4 separate regions of the Homo sapiens genome follow, and regions 1, 2 and 4 are each reported to be linked to region 3. Evidence: microRNA targets listed by miRTarBase, many of them from high-throughput screens and not tested one by one. Region 3 holds a microRNA gene; each other region holds the end of a gene's coding sequence.
What was found. The annotated mature microRNA hsa-miR-3646 reads AAAAUGAAAUGAGCCCAGCCCA and lies in region 3 at 1,465-1,486, opposite strand. An mRNA with a match to its seed (bases 2 to 7 or 8) in the 3' UTR can be bound and repressed. Matches are read on the target gene's strand: a 7mer-m8 pairs with bases 2 to 8, a 7mer-A1 pairs with bases 2 to 7 and ends in A, and an 8mer does both.

Region 1 (3,155 bases), not on the chromosome of region 3:
TCCGTTGGTTTTCTGGCACCTCTTATTCTAGTTCCGCTATTAGAATAGCCTATGAAAGAGGATCACATACAGCAAGCACAGGGGAAACACTCCAGAACCAACCACTGAATGAATTACTTGGCTCTATACCACGTTCTTTTATTCCTTCTCCCTTTATTTTCTAGGTTAAATTTATTCTTGTATCATCTTAACATCTGAAACTATTTTTATTACTATTTTATCTTACTTCTAATGCATACTTAAAATACTTCTGATTGTACAGCAGTTTTACCATAAACCTTGCATGTCATTTTCTGATGAATCATGAATAACTCAACCAGACACAGCGTGAGGTCAACAGCAAACATCTGTGTCCTTGGAGGCGGCCTTCTCCCCTTCACGCAGCTGGCTGGCATCAGCTAAACAGCCAGTTATTTAACACACTCAAGCTGTGCACCAGGGCAGGCTGACCAGTGCTTACTGCTGAATATCTTACACATTAAAACAGGAAGATGAAACCAGAAAAAGAATACAAGGGTTAATTACTAGCTTATTAGTAGTTCCATTTTTCTTCCAAAGAAAACAGTTCTGTTGAGTCTCAGGTGGATGTTGGGTAGAAGCAGGACAGCCAGTCAGCGCCGCTTTGAAGTGTGGCTGCAGGGCTTGCGCTCTCCCCAATTCAGCTGTTGAAGCAGGGAAGAGACTTCAAAGCCGGCTTGCTGTTGTTCCTGCCAGTGGGGTGTGTGCAATTCCCATCAGTTTGCTTTAAGGAAAAAACGGAGAGGAATTCATCTCCTGTCACTTGCCAGGGCTTGATGCTCATCAAATAATCTACTAGTTTGTAGTTAGGACCATCTCTATCTAGTGGACACAAAGGAAATTCATTGTGTGACTTACGTTTATTTATGTACATTAATTTTACACATCTGAGATAGCCAGTTTGTGTAATTTGTCCAGATTGTGCCACATGTCAGTGACGAGTAAACCACTCCTACTGCTGATTAAATTCACTTGTGGAAATATACAGTAGCTCTCCTAGGCAAAGGCAAGTTTAGAAGATTGTCCCCTTGTTGCTCTGTTACTACAACCCATAATTACAACTGTTTACAATCCTTTAGTCAGATTTAAATTCAACATGTAGGAAGTGCGCTCAAACTCCTTTGTGAGTTAAGAATTATTCTGTTTGGTCAATTCACTTTGTACTATATATACATTTTTGAACAACACATTTTTAAAAGTAAATGCAATTTCCCTGAATGATTTTATTTGGTCTAAACCTTAATTTCCATTTAAAATGTATATAGTTTATTTCACAATAAGGGGAAAATGAAATACTTGAAGCCATTATTAACTTTTTTTTTTTTTTCTGAGACGAAGTCTTGCTCTGTCGCCTAGGCTGGAATGCAGTGGTGTGATCTTGGCTCATTGCAACCTCCACCTCTCAGATTCGAGCAATTCTCCTGCCTCAGCCTCCTGAGTAGCTGGGATTACAGGCGCATGCCACCACACCCAGCGAATTTTTGTATTCTTCGTAGAGATTGGGTTTAACCACGTTGGCCAGGCTGGTCTCAAACTCCTGACCTCGTGATCCTCCCACCTTGGCCTCCCAAAGTGCTGGGATTTCAGGCGTGAGCCACCGTGCCCAGCCAGCTCACTCTTATAATTGAAAATAGCTCTAGTTCAAAAACGGATTCTTTTGACTTATGTGGACAATTAAACTTCCCCACTATTACCCAGTCAGCTTTTATTTAAATAAACATGAAAAATTAGGTAAAAACATTTCATTGTACAGTACAGCATGGGAAAAGATATGAGGCTCTTTAGGAAAGCTTAGCATGCCAAAAATGCAGCAGTAACCAGACAGCAACATTCACCAGTGGCAGTAATACTGCCTCGCCAGTGGTAGCACTACTACCGCAGAGTTGCCAACACCAATACACAGGCATCCATTTATTCAACAGCAGGTCCCCAGTATGGCCTAAAGTAGAGCTACCTGGTAGAAATGAAACGGGGATAAAAACAAACTCGCTCCTGGGAGCATAATGAGGAAAAATCTAGTTACAGAAAGCTTCTAAAATTAGCACAGGAGTATGCATCATGCTGTAGAAAAGACGGTCTACCATACAAGTTCTGAAGAAGCAAAGATCATTAATTAAAGAGCTGTTAACAGAATATTCAGGAGGCTGTGGCAGGAGAATCGTTTAAACCCGGGAGGTGGAAGTTGCAGTGAGCAGAGATTGTGCCACTGCACTCCAGTCTGGGCAACAGACTCTGTCTCAAAAAAAAAAAAAAAAAAAGAGCTGTTAACAACAAATTAATCTGTTATTGATCTGACACTTATCACTCACAGAATACAATGAAACAGGAAGTTATTATTGAAATAATAACTTGCATTTTTATTTTTTAATATTGCAAATGGCATAAACTCCAGGATTCCCACTTCCCAAGATGTGTTTTTATTTCTCACTGATTGTATCCTGAAGGAATCACAGGTCTTGGCAAGGTCAAGTCACCATCGCTGGTTACACATATCCTGGATATGTGCAGGTTCCCTGTGTCAAGGCCTTTTGAGCCACTTGGAGATGTAATTTAAAAAGGCAAAACAATGCACAGAACAATTGGGGAAAAGTTACAAGTAAAATAATTTTATGCAGACAGAAATGTTTTTAAAGCTGTTCATGATTTAGTAGAAAGAATCAGGAGCTTGAAACAATTACTTCTGTTGCTCTTTTTCTGAGGTTTCATTCCAATGAGAGTTGCACACTGTCAGCTTGGTTTTGTGGCTGCTGATAGTCGTACTTTCTTGCTATTCACAACAAGAAAAAGAAGAGATAAAATTAATAAAACTGCAAAATGATTACTACTTAACAATATTACATTACAGTCAAGTCATGATTCTCAATGAAGAATTAGTTTTTGTCTGTTTGTTTCAGAGATAGAGTCTCCCTCTGATACCCAGGCTGCAGTGCAGTGGCACAATCACAGCTCACTGCAGCTTCAACCTCTTGTGCTCAAGCAATCCTCCCACCTCAGCTTCCCAGGTAGCTGAGACCACAGACAGACACCACCACACCCGGCTAATTTTTTATTTTTTGCAGAGATAGGGTCTCGCCATGTTGCCCAGGCTGGTCTTGAACTCCTGGCCTCAAGTGATCCTCTTGCTTTGGCCTCTTAAA
Region 2 (3,155 bases), not on the chromosome of region 3:
GTAATGTCAGCACTTTGGGAGGCCAAGGCGGGCAGATCACCTGAGGTCAGGAGTTCAAGACTAGAATGGCCAAAATGGTGAAACCCCATCTCTACTAAAAATATTAAAAAAATTAGCCTGGCATGGTGGCATGTCTGTAATCCCAGCTACTTGGAAGTCTGAAGCAGGAAACTGCTTGAACCCGGGAAGCAGAGGTTGCAGTGAGCCAAGATCGTGCCACTGCATTCCAGCCTGGGTGACAGAGCGAGACTCCGTCTCAAATGAAAAAAAAAAAAAAAACTCATAGTATTTCTAGTAAGTATGACAAAGGACATTTTTACTACTGCTTAAAGGGCTGGTTATAGACTCAATTGTGCCATAAAATGATCTTATCTTTGAGAGCTTCCTTTTTGAATCTCCTGGCATCGAATACTTTCACACACCCCAGTTCTTCTAGTCACTGGAGAACCCAATTCATACTAACAAGACAAGGGCAATGTGTTCCATGCCAGCAATCAATTACTGTAGTGACTCTTGGAGGGTGACAGGAAATATTCTGGAGGAAAATCCTGTCCAATTATACTACCAAGGGGGCCACCCACTTGCTTCACACTAAGACTGGCATTTATTACCTTATTATATGATATTAACACATTCACTATGTTTATGTTTTGAACTGTAGGGCATGGTCCTGATAAAGCAAGCTTTGGTTCATATAAATGTATATTGCATACACTTGACTCATATTTAACTATTTAATTATCCTAATTGCAACTGATCTTTTATTTCTCAAGAACAGACCATTTTCCTTTGAATAAATGCATAGCAATATTTTTAACATGTTACTGAATCGGTACACTACCCTTGGGTTATTCTGTTTCAATGCTTTATCAGTGATTATGTGGATTTTTCTAATCCTCAATTTAACACACCCAAATATAGAAAATAAGTACATAGCTTGATTTTTTACAACTTTAAGGAAAATGCTGAAAGCAGAACTTATGAAATGCCATATTTTACCTTAATTTTAGGTGAAATAATAAAATAGAAATTCAGTAATTCATGTAAATAAAAAATATCCCCTCAAAGACCTTACTACATTTTACAGATAATGCAAATTAAATAATTATACAATTATAATAGCCTCAAAACTGTATCTCAATCATGACTCAATTATAATATCTTTTTGCAGTTTTATGATTATTCTGGAGAAGCTGAAATTTATAAATTCTATTAAGATCAAAGACCTTCCAATACACTAAAATAATACTGAGACCATCATGATTTCTTATGAATAATCATTGTTTTAAACATCTTTGTGTCTTCACATAAATTATGAAAATTTAACTCAGAAGAAAAATACTGTAATCCATAATCCATTAAATAAAAAATACAGTGAGCTAGGTCAAAGTCAGTATTTTAAGAAATAATTAAGGTATTGTACTCAAGAGCACTTTTCTTTTTCACTAGGCTAGGAAAGTGAAACATAATTAGCATTTTACTCCGTGACAGCAAGTTCACTGCACTTCTAAATGCTTGACTATCTCCAAAAATACACTTTTCATTGTTTTATAATACACACATATTTTATACTTGTGAGTTAACATAGGTATTTTTCTTGAGAAGACATTACAAAATGAAGCACTGATATGAACAAAACCTCACAGGCAAGATTTTAGAAAATCTGAAATCATCTTGCCTGGGTCATAATTCAAAGACAGTGACAAATGTTGTTAGGGGAAACAAAATCAGTAGAAATATAAAATATGAAAAGTCTTTAAAATCCAGACAGCCAATATAAAAAACAGACAGACTTCAGTGAAAGCTTGGAGAGCTGTTTAAAGAAATGAGGTATGATGAAGTCATAGTGCTACAATATGTATCAATGTATTAAGAACCTATATTTCAAAGCTCCAAAATCAGCAAATCATAAACTATTTGCTGCTGTGTTCACATGACCTTACTGGTCAGATGTTTAATGGTCACTAATAATACATTTAAAATAAGCATGAAGCTAACTGCATGATCATATGGTGAGCTTATCCGCCACATATGAAGGCAAATTATAAGTAAAAATGTAAGCAAACAATTTTGTATTAATAATAAATAGAGCTTTAAGCATTTAACATTATCAATACTTTTAAAATTTAAATAAATGCACTATTTTATACAGAACTGTACCATTTATTATACACACAAGTATATCAGTTCCCTTTGTTAACAAAGGCTGGTTATAGATAATATGGAATGTTACAGTACCATCTTGCATAAAATTCTAGTACGATTTTGTACTTGAAAAAGGGTGCAAAAACACCAGACTAATAAATCTGACTGAATTGAAATATCTCTTCTTTCTTTTTAAAAAGTACATCATTAACACATACACCACAAACTGTACATAAGCTCACTTTAAATCACCAACTGGAGATATGGTAGCATGTATACTGTAGTGTTAATTATCCCTCCCATCAGTTTAATTTATTAAAGCCTTACACTGCTGTTCATTCAGGAGCCTTTGTTGATGTGCAAGCCTGTAATATGAATTACTGAACTCAGGTAAGTAGAATTTAAAGGAGGCCAACAACAGCTGCCAAGAATTATCTGCAGTAAGAAATGTCCTTCTCACAGAAGACTCAATTAGGAGCAAACATTTTTTAGACTATCTTCCTGCTTTCAAATATATTGTAGCCGGTCAAGATTCTCCATTTTGAACTCTGGATGCTGGTGGCTGCATGAAATCCTTAAAAGGAACTAGTGCCTCTTTAAGTGCAGAACAGACTTCTGAAGAAGAACAGGTGATGCATTCTACTAAAGTTGGGTATAAGGCAATTACTTGTGCCCAGGTATTTCCATCAACTGTAATGCAAAAGTATAAAACCTCAAAAGGGTGGAATTAAATAGAGATTATTCAATTAACATGAACACAATCCTTTAAACTGCATGTAAAGAAAAAACTCTGAAACATGAAGATTCTACAAGCTTGTATCTTTTTATCTTTTTAATTTTTCAAAGATTTCCTGCTATATTTAATAAGGTATGGGAAAAAATATATGCTCAGTGTGCAGTCATCAGTAACAATAAATTTGATAAAGTACATTTTAAATGGTATTTCAATTTGTGAAGGCTCTGAAAGCTAACAAAGCAATTCAGAACAATCCAAACCTTTGTCATTTTTA
Region 3 (3,155 bases):
AAAATGACTCTGGATGTCTAATAAAAGACATTTATAACAACTGACCACACGCAGGACCAGGCCACACGCAGTGGAGGTGGGTAGCCATCCACTCAGGAGGGCTGCCAACCCCTCTCCCATCTGCCTGTCACAGACCTGAACTTTCACTGTGAGAGAGCTGTTCTCTCAAACACAGTGCCCTCTGGATGACACCTATGAGGAATCATAGTGCCTAAAATCTTAGGCTTTTGGGATAATGGAATCACTGACTAATACAACCACAGAAATGTTGGAACCTTAGACTGTAGTTCTCAATCTTTTTCTTGCCTCCAACTGTTCACACATGCATCAGGTTCCCATTCATAATCTTTCCCAGTCCACAAAATGGAAGTTGAAGTGGATGAGACAGGCTTAACCCCATTGAAAACTGGGTTTGGGAGAGGAGGGAGTATTTGCAGCTTAAAAAGCCCCTCTTGCCCTTGGAGAACCACTGATATCTAGATGTTAGAATTGCAGCGTTCAGAGCAGGCCTTGGGGACCACCCACTCCTGCATCGGGATCAGCAAGCCCAGATTTTCCAAGACAGCTCATGAGCCCAGACTAAGGTCCCATAAGGATGAGACATAGAAGATATTTCCAAGGGAGGGGGCAGAGAAAACAGGGGGCCAGGAGCAGATACAGGGGAAAGAGAGTCTACCAAAGCCTCCCCTCCCCTCCTTCTCAGTGGGCCCTGGAGCAAGCTGGGTCCTACGTTCCTGCTTCTGGGGTGTGCTGGGGTGATGGGGGTGAGGGGTGTTTGTACCGAACTAGCAGGACTAGACCAAGGTTTGGCTGGTACGGCACAACTGTGGGCTAGAAGGGAAGGTCTGGGACTAGTCGCAGAGCTGGGAAAGGTTGAGTTTAGAGGAGCAGGAAATGAAGAGATTCGAAAATGAACTCGTTACTTTTTTATTTTTTTTGAGAGAGTCTCGCTGTCTTGCCCAGTCTGGAGTGCAGTGGCATGATCTCAGCTCACTGCAACCGCCTCCTCTTGGGTTCAAGCAATTCTCCTGCCTCAGCCTTCCGAGTAGCTAGGACTACAGGCATGCACCACCACGCCCAGCTAATTTTTTTGTATTTTTAGTAGAGACGGGGTTTTACCATGTTGGTCAGGATGGTCTCGAACTCTTGACCTCAAATGATTTGCCTGCCTCGGCCTCCCAAAGTGCTGGGATTACAGGCCTGATTCACTGCGCCTGGCCTCAAGTTACTTTAAAGCAGTTAAAAGATTTTTGCTTCCCTTGCTTGGGCTGAAAACAATTTTAAATGTCCCTGGTATCTGGAGAGCATAAAATAATAGACAGTGCTGAAGTGTGGTCCAAATAGCAGAAGCTCTGGGACTTCAGATCTTCCAAGGATCAGTTGTGGGGCCCTAGGCAAGTTGCTTAACCATTGTGGGCCTCAGTTCCTTCATCCACAAAAAGGGAGGAATTGTAATAGGTTCAATGGGCTGGGCTCATTTCATTTTCACAACATTTTCCCATATAGGGTTGTCATGAAAATGAAATGAACCCAACCTACTGAAGTGTGGAAAAAGCACAGCCCAGTGACTGATACCTGCTGGTAGCAGGAAGCCTGGCAAGACCTTAATAAATGTTGTGCTCTGGTCTTCTCCTCCTTTGTCCAGGATGGGTCTGGGGTCTTGTTCCCATTTTCTAGAATGTGAAGACTTTGGAGATCACGTGATACCCACGAATGAATACTAAGGGAACTGGGGCATTTGTCCCTGGGACCGGAAGCTCAGGCATCGGGCTCCTCTGGCTGTCCCTTTTGTAAAGTTGGGATAGTGAGTACTCAGATGTTTGCAATATCATTCTCTATGCTTGTCCTAACGTTCGAAATATTATATTAAACACACACACACACACACACACACACACACACACAACGTGGCTGCTTTGTGGTGGCGCAGACAGGCAGGCAGGGGTGGTGGTTGCTGGGAGCCTGAGGAGCCAAGAGTGGGAGCTTATCTCTCTGAATCTTTCTCAAGACCAAGCCCAGCCGCTCCCTATGGTCAGATTTCCAGGCCCTCCCTCTTCTCAGCCATTAGCCAGTCACCCTGGGGCCTGCCACTGAGTCATAAAGTGTGGCTACAGTTGTAAATGACTGTCGGGGAGCTGTGGGTGCAGGTGGGGCAGTGGTGGTGGGGCGGGGAGGGCCGAGGCTCACCTTCCTTCTTCATGCCAGCCCGGAAGCATTTCTTGAGCCTGCAGTAGCGGCACTGGTTCCTCTTGTCTTTGTCCACCACGCACTGCCGGCTAAATCTGGGGAGGGCTTTGGATGGTTGGATGGAGAAGACACAACTTCCTCCTCTTAGGACAGAACTAGGGCCCTGGCTATCCAGTTGACCCCCCAACCTCAGTGCTCTCATCTCTTCATCCCGGGAGTTCTCTCTTGAACCCACCAGGAGCTGGAAAGGTGCTATGAACTCTCTAAGAGCCCAGTCCTGTCCTGCTAAACATGGGAAAACTGAGGCTCAGAGAGGCAACATGTGGTCCTGGGTCGCTCTGCTGGTTGGTGTTAGAGCTGAGTTGGGAACCTTGACCTCTGGAGTACCAGAGCCCTGCTATTTCCACCACATCCTATAAAAGCTCAGAACCCATAGCAGGCTCCTGGTTATGGCTCAGAGTTAATACTCGGTTCACATAAGCCTCTCTCTGGAGGGGGATAGGAAGTAGAGGCAGTGCCACACCGTGGTGATGGGTGGGGCCCTGAATGTTAACCCTGGCTCTGCCAGTGATTCAAGCTGGTTGACCTTGGGCAAATGCCTAGCCCTCCAAGCCACAGCTTCCTCCTCTATAAAATGGGAATAACAACAGTAACCATCTCACAGGGGTGTTGACAGGTGAAATGAAGTCATGCGCCGATGGGGCACAGTCTTTGTACATGACAAGTGCTCGCAATTGACAGCTGCTATGATTTTATTATTGTCATTACCCAGAACAGGAGATGCTTTCGAAAGAGGGCTCTCCAAGGCCTTGGGAAGACTTTGGGGTTGGTGGAAGCCCCTGGGGTAGGTGGAACGGCCTGGGGTCAATCTCCTATTTGTCCCAAAAACAGCACCAGACTGGAAGACGGGCTCATCTACTGAGGCTTCAGGAGAGGCCCCATGGAATGGGAAAAACAACAATGGGCTC
Region 4 (3,000 bases), not on the chromosome of region 3:
TGGAGTGCTCGGAGCAGAAGGCGCCGCCGGCCGGGGAGGACCCGCGCCAGTTCGACAAGGCGGTGGCGGTGGTGGCGCACCAGCAGCTCTCCGAGGGCGAGCACTACTGGGAGGTGGATGTTGGCGACAAGCCGCGCTGGGCGCTGGGCGTGATCGCGGCCGAGGCCCCCCGCCGCGGGCGCCTGCACGCGGTGCCCTCGCAGGGCCTGTGGCTGCTGGGGCTGCGCGAGGGCAAGATCCTGGAGGCACACGTGGAGGCCAAGGAGCCGCGCGCTCTGCGCAGCCCCGAGAGGCGGCCCACGCGCATTGGCCTTTACCTGAGCTTCGGCGACGGCGTCCTCTCCTTCTACGATGCCAGCGACGCCGACGCGCTCGTGCCGCTTTTTGCCTTCCACGAGCGCCTGCCCAGGCCCGTGTACCCCTTCTTCGACGTGTGCTGGCACGACAAGGGCAAGAATGCCCAGCCGCTGCTGCTCGTGGGTCCCGAAGGCGCCGAGGCCTGAGCCGCCGGACGGGTAGTGGAGGGGCGCGGGGGCCTGGGTTGAAGCTTAGGTCTCCTTGGTCGGGTCTGACGGGAGAAGGGTGGGGAGCGGGTTGCCAGGGCCCAGGGGGCTGGGAACTGGGGGATCTCCCAGAATACTGACAAGCGTGGGGTAGGACTGGCTTGGTGGCTCATGCCTGTAATCCCAGCACTTTGGGAGACGGAGGCGGGTGGATCACCTGAGGTCAGGAGTTCAAGACCAGCCTGGCCAACATGGTGAAACTCCTCTCTACTGAAAATACAAAAATGAGCTGGGCGCGGTGGCATACGCCTGTAATCCCAGCTAGTTGGGAGGCTGAGGCAGGATAATTGCTTGAACCCAGGAGGTGGAGGTTGCAGTGAGCAGACATTGCGGCACTGCACTCTAGCCTGGGTGACAAGAGTGAGACTCTGTCTCAAAAAAAAAAAAAAGTGTGGGGGTTGGCATGGCCTGGGGACTGCTGGTGAGGGGTTGGAGTGACGCTGGGGACAAGACCCAGTGGGGTAGGGAGATCTGGAGTCAGGTCAGTGGGGAAATCAGAATTTGGGAACCAGGAGGCCTGAGAATTCCAGGAAGAAACTAAGGTTGAGCGAGGGAGGGACAGGGCCAGGTTGGGGGATTGATGGGAGGAGCTTGAGAACCTGTAGATAAGGGGCTCCTTTTGCCTCACACTCCCCTCCTCCTTAGGCCTTGGGTCCCCCGCTCCAGATTCACCTTACCCAAAAGCCTTCTCCTTAGTTCTCCACCTTAGGCATGCATTAAAATCACCTTTTTAAAGCCCTTAGCCATGACTTGTTAAAGCATAGGGTGCTAAGTTTCTGATTTAGTAGGTTGGACAGGTCAAAAATGCTCATTTCTTTTTTTTATTTCTTTTTTTTTTTTTTTTTTTTTTTTTTGAGACAGAGTCTTGCTCTGTCACTCAAGGCTAGAGTGCAGTGGTGCCATCTCGGCTCACTGCAACCTCTGCCTCCAGGGTTCAAGCAATTCTCATGCCTCAGCCTCCCAAGTAGCTGGGACTACAGACGCCCGCCACCACACCTGGCTATTTATTTTTATTTTTAGTAGGGGTTTCACTATGTTGGCCAAGCTGGTCTCGAACTCCTGACCTCAAGTGATTCACCCGCCTTGGCCTCCCATAGTGCTGGGATTACAGACATGAGCCACTGCACCTGGCTGAAAATGCTCATTTTTTTTTTTTTAATTTAGTTTTTGTAGAAATGGTGTCTCGTTACATTGCCCAGGCTGATCTTGAACTCTTGGCCTCAGGTGATCCTCCTGCCTTGGCCTTCCAAGTGCTGGGATTACAGGTGTGAGCCACCACGCCCTGCCAAAAATGTGCATTTCTAGCAGGTTCCCAGGTGACGCTGCTGGCCACAGGGGCTGACGCTGCGGGAAGCCCTGACCTAGTGCACAACCCATTGGGCTCTTCACTGTCAGTGTAGAGGCATAGGTCCAAAATATGTTTCCCCAGTCAAAAACATGTAAGGTTTGCACCAGGAGTGGAAGGAAACAAACAAACATAAACCAAAGCAAAGACACTTAAGGGCTGGGTACTCATGCCTGTAAACCCAACACTTTGGGAGTTTGAGGCAGGAGGCTCATTTGAGGCCAGGAGTTTGAGACCAGCCTGGGGAACATAGTGAGACCCTGTTGCAACAAAAACCAGAAAAACAACAAAAAGAAGACATTGGAAAATGGCTGGAGCTGATTCTAGGTGAATAAACAACCCTCGACTTAACTTGCTTTGCCTCTGGGATATGTTTATCGAGCGTCTTGAACGTTGAGGAAGCCAGCCAAGAGAAAGAGCCTGATGCCAAGGTCACACTGGTCCCTGCTGCTCATGGGGAAGAGAAGGCCCCCAACTAGATGTCCCAGAACTGGCCGCTCCCCACTTACTTGCTGGTTCACACCTTCTTTGGTTTTAGCGCACAGGGCATTTCTTGGGCTCTGGAGTAACCACTGAGGCCAGAGTGAGAGTCCCTCTTCCCTGGAGGGAGAGGCCTTTGGGGATCCAGACAGGCTTCTCTCCTGAGGGAAGACGCTGGCCTGGGGTCACTCATTTTCACGGGGAGGGTGTGCTGGCGGGATGGGTGGAAGGGCCTGGGGCCCCGGCAGCCCATTGCGGAGGTTTTCTCGGGAGATGGTGGGTATGGGACTAAGGGTGAAAGGGAAGTTGTGAGTTGGGTAAGAAAGGCCTGAGGATCTGGCAGGGGAAGGCGGCACACCTGGGTGTGTCTCCCAGAGGAAGGCCTGTGGAGCCCTGGCTTCAGGAGACAGAAGAGAGGATTAACGGTAGAAGCTCTTTCATGTTAGAAAATAAAACAATATAGCTAAGGGATTATTTGGTTGTAAAATCCAACACCATTAATAAAACTGTTATATTCTGACTCCTTCCTCATTAAATCCACATGAAAAGACATGTGACCTACTGCAAGGCCTCCTAATTGCCCTCCAGCCTTTAATCCTGACTTGGTAATGT

Region 1: miRTarBase lists SMIM19 as a target of hsa-miR-3646. Seed matches in the 3' UTR shown: 7mer-m8 at 1,980-1,986 and 7mer-m8 at 1,304-1,310.
Region 2: miRTarBase lists MON2 as a target of hsa-miR-3646. Seed matches in the 3' UTR shown: 7mer-m8 at 1,614-1,620 and 7mer-m8 at 259-265.
Region 4: miRTarBase lists TRIM72 as a target of hsa-miR-3646. The part of its 3' UTR that is shown has no 7-base or 8-base seed match.

What each region holds. Positions count from the first base shown.
Region 1 is chr8:42,552,174-42,555,328 of GRCh38, reverse strand. It overlaps SMIM19 (small integral membrane protein 19), which reads right to left. Exons shown (of 4, transcript NM_001135674.2): 4 at 134-2,785. The coding sequence ends at 2,721. Among named protein-coding and RNA genes, the nearest start is that of SMIM19, 12 kb to the right of the region's middle. RefSeq lists an enhancer at 437-958.
Region 2 is chr12:62,592,266-62,595,420 of GRCh38, reverse strand. It overlaps MON2 (MON2 regulator of endosome-to-Golgi trafficking), which reads right to left. Exons shown (of 35, transcript NM_015026.3): 35 at 1-2,835. The coding sequence ends at 2,672. Among named protein-coding and RNA genes, the nearest start is that of MIRLET7IHG, 8.9 kb to the left of the region's middle.
Region 3 is chr20:44,406,508-44,409,662 of GRCh38, reverse strand. MIR3646 (microRNA 3646) reads right to left here and starts at 1,543; the gene lies at 1,460-1,543. HNF4A (hepatocyte nuclear factor 4 alpha) reads right to left here. Exons shown (of 10, transcript NM_175914.5): 3 at 2,188-2,282.
Region 4 is chr16:31,224,253-31,227,252 of GRCh38, forward strand. It overlaps TRIM72 (tripartite motif containing 72), which reads left to right. Exons shown (of 7, transcript NM_001008274.4): 7 at 1-3,000. The coding sequence ends at 503. Among named protein-coding and RNA genes, the nearest start is that of PYDC1, 8.6 kb to the left of the region's middle.